2 linked regions of the Homo sapiens genome follow. The protein of the gene in region 1 purifies or fractionates together with the protein of each later gene. This does not show direct contact. Each region holds a gene or a part of one and is shown on either strand. Other genes may lie near its edges.

Region 1 (3,672 bases):
GCCAGGTCTGGGCCAAGGGCAGTAAGGGCCATCTCCCTCATTGGCCAGGCCTGGTTGGGTCCCCAAAAGCAGTTGTGACCATGTGGGTTCTTGGCTCCAGATTCTACTCAGCTTGCCCACCTACATGCCTGTATTAGTCTACTCTCATGCTGCTAATAAAGACATACCTGAGACTGGGTAATTTATAAAGGAAAGAGGTTTAATGGACTCACAGTTCCACATGGCTGGGGAGGCCTCACAATCATGGCAGAAGGCAAAGGAGAAGCAAAGGCATGTCTTACATGGCAGCAGGCAAGAGAGCTTGTATGGGGGAACTCCCATTTATATAACCATCAGATCTTGTAAGACTTTTTCACTATCACAAGAACAGTATGGCGGAAGCTGCCCCCATGATTCAATTATCTCCATTTGGCCCAAGGAGAGATTTGGGTGGGAACACAGCCAAACCATATCAGTGCCCTTTCCTGAGTGTCTGAATGGGCGGGAGGAAGACATGATGATGTCATAGGCAAAGGTGGGGAGAATGACCTCCACCCTGGGCTTGGCCTGGGACCAGGGACTGAGAGGGCCTACAGTATACTCCCATGGTCTTGAAAGGGGCTGCCAGATCCTATGAGCAGGTGGTGGTTCAGAGGCTGGTGGGAAAGCTCAGCTCCGTGGCTGGGAACCTGCCCTGAGGTTATGTGCCCATCTCTGAGCTGTACCCAGCTCCCTGCTGGGGAAGGTGGGTTAAGCAGCCAGCCCTGAGGAAAGAAGAACTCTGTGATGGTGGCCGATGGAACAGGGCCCCACAGGTTGGCCCTGGGCTGTTCCCTAGAATCCAAGAGCACAGGGGAAGCTCACGGAAGCCTTGCACACTTTCTGACACCAGCGTCTCCTCACCTGCAGGCTGAGACTTACTGACACTTTTCACCCTCTTGGCCCCACATGTGTGGCCCACTGGAGGGGAGCAATGGCTGGCAGAAAACCACCAGGTCTGGAGGTCAGGGGCTGGGTTCTGGCCTGGCCCTGCATCTGGCCAACACGTGATCTGGAACTGTTTTGTGGGCCTCGGTTTTCCTTCCAGAAGCAGAGAATCATTCTCTATTTCTGAGTGGGGCAAGGGGGCTCTGACCTCTCCCCTGGGGCTGCCTTTTCCCTTTATTTCCAAGCAGTATCACAAGGGCCCACCAAAGTGGCATCTGGAAGTATGTGTTTCCAACAAATCCAGTCTTTTTTTTTTCTTTTCCCCTTATTGGCTTACCATGATATGGTAGAAATTTATTCAGGCCTGCCTTTAAAATTCCCCTTGATTGAGTCTTTGGTGGATCTTACAAAGACTTTGGTGAGTTGCAGAGTCTCTCAGTATATCACCTGGATGGAGGTAGAGGGGCAGAGGGCCACGATGGGCAGGATTGGGCCTCTGGGAGAACAGAAGGGCCAAGGCAAAGCAGAAAGGAGCAGGGAGGTCCTCGGCAGGGGAGCCATCTGGAAGATGTCAACTTGCAGGCCCTGAGGTCTGCCCTGGGCTGAGTTCCTGGGTCTCCTACTGGAGAGATCAGCCAAAATACACCTCTGTTCCCCCAAGCACTCTTTGCTTTCTGCCTTCTCTCTGGTCTTGGAATTTTCAGTTCAATTGGGATCTTACAGGAAAACAATTCCAGGCCAATTCCTGACTTCCCACCCTAGAAGGGAATGTTGGAGCCCTTGGCCTGTGGTTCCCTCTCCCTCCTTCTTGGGAGCTGGTCCCGGGGGGAAATGGTGGGAAGTTCCATATTTGGATGGCCCAGAGTGCTGGAATGAGATGGAGATCTCCAGAGCAGGACAAGAGGGTCCTTATTTAGTCTGAAGTCTCCAACCTGGGGCTTAGGGTGAGAGAGGAGCTGGCAGAGGGATGGACCCTTTAAAGGCAAGAGGATGGCAGTTGCAAGGAAAGGAGCTGAGAGCTTCTCCGAGGGTGGTAAAAGGCGTGGCTTCTCCAGTGGTATCCCTCGGTTTCTATGTTCAGGACATGTTTGAGGATGCGTCCAACTGAGATGCTGAACTCCAATATTTAAGGAATATGATCAAACCGAATTAGGATTACAGGACAAGTAAAGAAAAAGAATGCAGTTGAATCTCTTGAGAGGAGTATGTGAAAGTTAGAAGCAATGATCTCTTGAAGCTGGGGCCTGTCCCTCCCACTTCCTTGTCTCCCGATGGTACTAACTTTATATAATACTAATAAGAGTAGCCAACATTTATTATGCATTTGTTGTATGCAGGGTATTATGCCAAGTACTTCACATGTCAGATCTCATTTGATTCTCACCACCAGCTTTTGGGGCAGACATTATTATGTTCATTTACAAATGAGGACACAGAGGCTGGAAAGGCAAAAAAAACTTGCAAATGGCTGGAAAGGGAGAGAGCTGGGATTTGATTCTGGGCAGTCTGACTCTTCATGACCCCAGGCTCTGAACTGCTTTAACTTTATTTTTATTTTTAAAAGTTTTATTTATTTATTTATTTTTAAATAAATAGAGACAGGGTTATGCCATCTTCCCCAGGCTGATCTCAAACTCCTGGGCTCAAGTAATCCTCCAGCCTTGGCTTCCCACTGCTGGAACTACAGGCATGAGCCACTGCACCCAGCCCAAACTGTTTTATTCTGGATAGCTGGGCATAGCTCCCCTCTGAGATTAACAGGACGAAATATGAGGCCCACAGCCTTTCCAGCTCAGACCATTGCAATCCCTAGTTCCTTCCGTTCCACTCTCTCTTACCCCAGGAGTCAGGAAGTTCTTCTGTGTCTGACCCTCACTTCTTCCTGTGGTAAAGTGATTTCTGAGATTAGAAACTTCAAATCCTCTTGTGATTAGCATGAGCTGCATCCCATTTCAAAGCCCACCATGTTGGGCACTTAATAAATGTTAAACATTTCTTATGGGGTATCACATCACCTGCATCTCCCCCCGTTGGCTCCCTGCCAACATGCACAGATAGTCTCTTCTGGATTCCACTGTTGAAGGCAGGAAAACTGCCCTTCTTTTCTTTTTCCTCCTCCCCCATTGGGACATATGGTCTCTGTTGAGGGCAGAGTGAGGAACCTCAACAGGCGTCCTGTGGCTTGGGGTCAGCCTAGGCTGTTGCCTCTGAACCCTGTGTTGCACTGCAGCCTGAGGAAGTTTAGGGGTGCAGAGGACCAAAGGAGACACATATGGATTCCTGGAAGAGGAATTGGTGTTGGCCAGCATTTCTAGAGTCGGATATGCAGATCCCATCCCTCTGTCCTCCCACCCATTGGCCATCCCGCCTGCCTCCATTTGTAGACAGTTCCTGAAAGATCAGGATATTATGTATGCAAAGAGGCCAGAGAGCTTCAGCTGTAAGAAGCTTGCAATGAGCAAGAAGGTCACCCCAGCTTCAACTCAATGCGTCCGCTTCCCCTTCCCCTCCACAGTGGTCTGCAAGAAGAATCTGGACAGTACCACTGTGGCCGTGCATGGTGAGGAGATTTACTGCAAGTCCTGCTACGGCAAGAAGTATGGGCCCAAAGGCTATGGCTACGGGCAGGGCGCAGGCACCCTCAGCACTGACAAGGGGGAGTCGCTGGGTATCAAGCACGAGGAGTGAGTAAAAGATCCCCTCCCAACCTTTTTCTTGAGCTCTCTCCCCCACCCTGTATTAGGCCTCATGTGTATTTACAACCAT
Region 2 (3,672 bases), on another chromosome or scaffold:
CTAGCTGAAACTGTGTGCAGTGTTATGTATATACATATATATATATAAAAACACACACACACATACATATATATACATATATATATACAGATACATATACATACATATATATATATATATACACACACACACACACACACACAGAAGCTGAATACAAGTCTGTGAAATTCTAAAGCCCATAACATTCATTTCATTAGGACTCTGGTGAAGTGGGAACCCACTCTTCCTGAGGAGATGCTCAGACTTTGTTCCTTAGGAAACATTGTTTGTATTTATTTAGGAGAGGGTGATGAGAAAGAAGACACAGTTTGGATTAAGTTCTCAATTTTGAGCTTTAAGCTGATAGGAGTTCAGTTGAAAGACGTAAAAACAAATGGAAGTCAGTTATATTTAAGCTAGTTATGGGGACCGTATGTACTTGACTGTTGGCTTCGTAATTTCAGAATTCAAATTTTAGCTGGTCCTCACAACCACATATATTTTCCATATACCAACGCATTCCTTCTCCCTCCACCACTCTGGTTTCTTTGAATGACCTAGTTTGTATTGTTTTAGGTCAGGGCACCATGCCTCTGCCAGTAGTTTAAGCTGATTTCGAGGCAGATAAAACGTCTGTAGTCCATAGCACATCTATTCATGATTTGACTGTAGAAAAGTTTGTTTAAATGTTTTGTGGTTGAGTCAGACCACTTCTGCCCACCAGGGTGTAGATAACTTGTATACACACATGCTGGTAACACACAATATACTTTTAACTGAAGTTCATGTTTCTTAAATTGTTTTATTTAATGTCACAGGAATATAAATCCTACATAGAGATCATGCCCGTTTTGCTCACTGTTGTACTTGGGGCACATTAAGGGTGTTTAATGATAATTGCGTGAATGGATATTTTGGCCAAAAAATGCACTTTAAAAATTAATGTCATTGTATTTATACTGCAAAACTCAGCCCTATGATAAATTTAACTTCTAATCGCTGTCTCCCTTCATTTGACAGTTAAAATAAAATATGGGCATATATGTATAGATGCACAGAATAGACTTATTCTGGTCTCTTTCATCCAGCCTCTTAAATCAGCTTACTTTGTACCTTTCAGGCAGAACCCTGATCTCTATAAATATCCTCTTCCCTATTTAGCAAACCCTGATAATCCTGTGATCCCATCCTCAGTAGTTGGATTAATATGATGCTGTATTATATTTGCACTTGTCTTCCCTAGACCATGCTTGAAATGCCATTTATCATTTTGCTGGAAGAAAACATTAGCTGAACTTTGCATTTCTCTGTAATTTCACTCAAAGGTGAAGTATCTGAAGTTATTATTTCCTAATAAGGAAAATTACTCATTAGAAATGTAGAAGCACTGTATTCTACACCATTAGGTTAATAAAGTTTATCTATAGTTAGAATTTTTTTTTTTTTTGAAACAGTCTAGCTCTGTGGCCCAGGCTGGAGTACACTGGTGTGATCTCGGCTCACTGCAACCTCCACCTCGCAGGTTCAAGCGATTCTCCTGCCTCAGCCTCCCAAGTAGCTGGGAATATAGGTGCCCACCACCATGCCTGGCCAATTTTTTGTATTTTTAGTAGAGGCAGGGTTTCACCATGTTGGCCAGGTTGGTCTCAAACTCCTGGCCTCAAATGATCCGCCAGCCTCAGCCTCCCGAAGTGCTGGGATTACAGGCATGAGCCACTGCACTCAGCCTTATAGTTAGAATGATTTCTTTTTCTTTCTTATCTGTGCTTTGCTCCTCTCCTTTTAAGGTGAATAAACATTATGTTTGTCTCTTTTTTTTTTTTTTTTTTTTTGAGACAGAGTCTTGCTCTGTCACCTAGCCCATAATGCAGTGGCCCGACCATAGTTCACTGCAGCCTCAAACTCTTGGGCTCAAGCCATCCTTCTGTCTCAGCCTCCTGAGTAGCTGGAACCGCAGGTGCACACCACCACACCTGGATAATTTTTTTTTTTTTTTTTTGGTAGGGATATGTGTCTCGTGTTTGTTGCCCAGGCTGATCTTGAATTCCTGGCCTTGAGCTATCCTCCTGCCTCAGCCTCCCAAAGCACTGGTATTACAGGTGTGAACCACTGTGCCTGGCCTTGTTTTTCTCTTAATTCTTTAATATCAAATGTAATGAGTGTGGAGCAAGTCTCTGCCTGAAAAAAAAAACAGTATTTTTAGTAACTTCTTTAAAAGAGACACATGAGGAAAAACCCAAAACATTAATTTTAAACTTTGAAAATATTTTATAGGCCGGGTGCAGTGGCTCACTCTTGTAATCCCAGCACTTTGGGAGGCCGTCACGGGCAGATTGCCTAAGGCCAGGAGTTTGAGACTAGCTTGGGCAACATAGTGAAACCCTGTCTCTACTAAAAATACACAAAATTAGCTGGGTGCGGTTGTACACATCTATAGTCCCAGCTACTCCGGAGGCTGAGGTGGAAGGATCACCTGAGCCTGGGAGGCTGAAGCTGTAGTGAACCATGATTTCACCACTGTACTCCAGCCTGGCATTAGGAGTGAGACCTTGTCTCAAAAAAAAAAAAAATATATATATATATATATATATAATATATGGTTTTATTTTTTGTTTTTGTTTTGAGATGGAGTTTCACTTTTGTTGTCCAGGCTGGAGTGCAGAGGCATGATCTTGGCTCACTGCAACCTCTACCTCCTGGGTTTAAGCAATTCTCCTGCCTCAGCTTCCCAAGTAGCTGGGATTACAGGCATGTGCCACCATACCCGGCTAATTTTGTATTTTTAGTAGATACGGGATTTCGCCATGTTGGCCAGGCTGGTCTCGAACTCCTGACCTCAAGTGATCCACCCACCTCGGCCTCCCAAAGTGCTGGAATTACAGGTGTGAGCCACCACACCCGGCCAAAAAAAATTTTTTTTAAAATAGGAAACAGATCTTCCTTCATAATTTCTGCACTAAGCAGAAAATGCATGAGAAGAACTTTGCCTGTGTCATTTAATGTACTAATTTGATAAATTCCAGATGTTTTATAATTTATTTTAAGAGGTAATGAGACCTCTTCTTTTCACTTACAATCAGGAACTCAGGATGAGTAGTAAAATGGGTTTTCCTCTTAGCCTTTTTATGTCACCAGTCCCCTAAGGATCTCAGAATTTTAATTTTTACTTTTCTGAAAGGTGATATTATAAATGAGTGATTGCAATATAGCTAATAGAAACCAGGGAGACTTCTTGTAAATATAGTTTTAAGAAGGAATGCTGTCAAAGTATTCAAGACCAGATGAGATAAAAACAGCAAAAAAAAAAATCTTGCCTTTGGGTGGATCGCTTGAGCTTAGGAGTTCAAGACCAGCCTGGGCAACATGGCAAAACCCCATCTCTACAAAAAATACAAAACTTAGTGGGGCGTGGTGGTGTGAGCCGGTAGTCCCAGCTACTGGAGAGGCTGAGGTGGGAGGATCGCTTGAGCCCAGGGAGTCGAAGCTGCAGTTAGCCGTGTTCACGCCACTACATTCCAGCCTAGGCCACAGAGGAAGACCCTGTCCCCCCAAAAAAAAGAAAAAGGAAAAAAAAGTCTGGCCTTTTAAAAAGCCAGACTTCTGTTTGTTTCCAATCTATTCAATCTCTGTCCCCCAAATCTTTTGGCATAGAATTTGTCTAGCTTAGACTAAACCTTCCATCTTACTGCTGGA

Evidence for each region. The genes of interacting proteins can lie anywhere in the genome.
Region 2: the proteins of CSRP1 (region 1) and ARL3 fractionate together in Homo sapiens (co-fractionation; one large-scale study listed by BioGRID). This does not show direct contact.

Annotation. Positions count from the first base shown.
Region 1 is NC_000001.11:201,490,094-201,493,765, reverse strand, and holds part of CSRP1 (cysteine and glycine-rich protein 1), read left to right. Parts: intron 1-3,421; coding exon 3,422-3,590; intron 3,591-3,672. UniProt on the Homo sapiens protein: Could play a role in neuronal development.
Region 2 is NC_000010.11:102,707,786-102,711,457, reverse strand, and holds part of ARL3 (ADP-ribosylation factor-like protein 3), read left to right. Parts: intron 1-3,672. UniProt on the Homo sapiens protein: Small GTP-binding protein which cycles between an inactive GDP-bound and an active GTP-bound form, and the rate of cycling is regulated by guanine nucleotide exchange factors (GEF) and GTPase-activating proteins (GAP).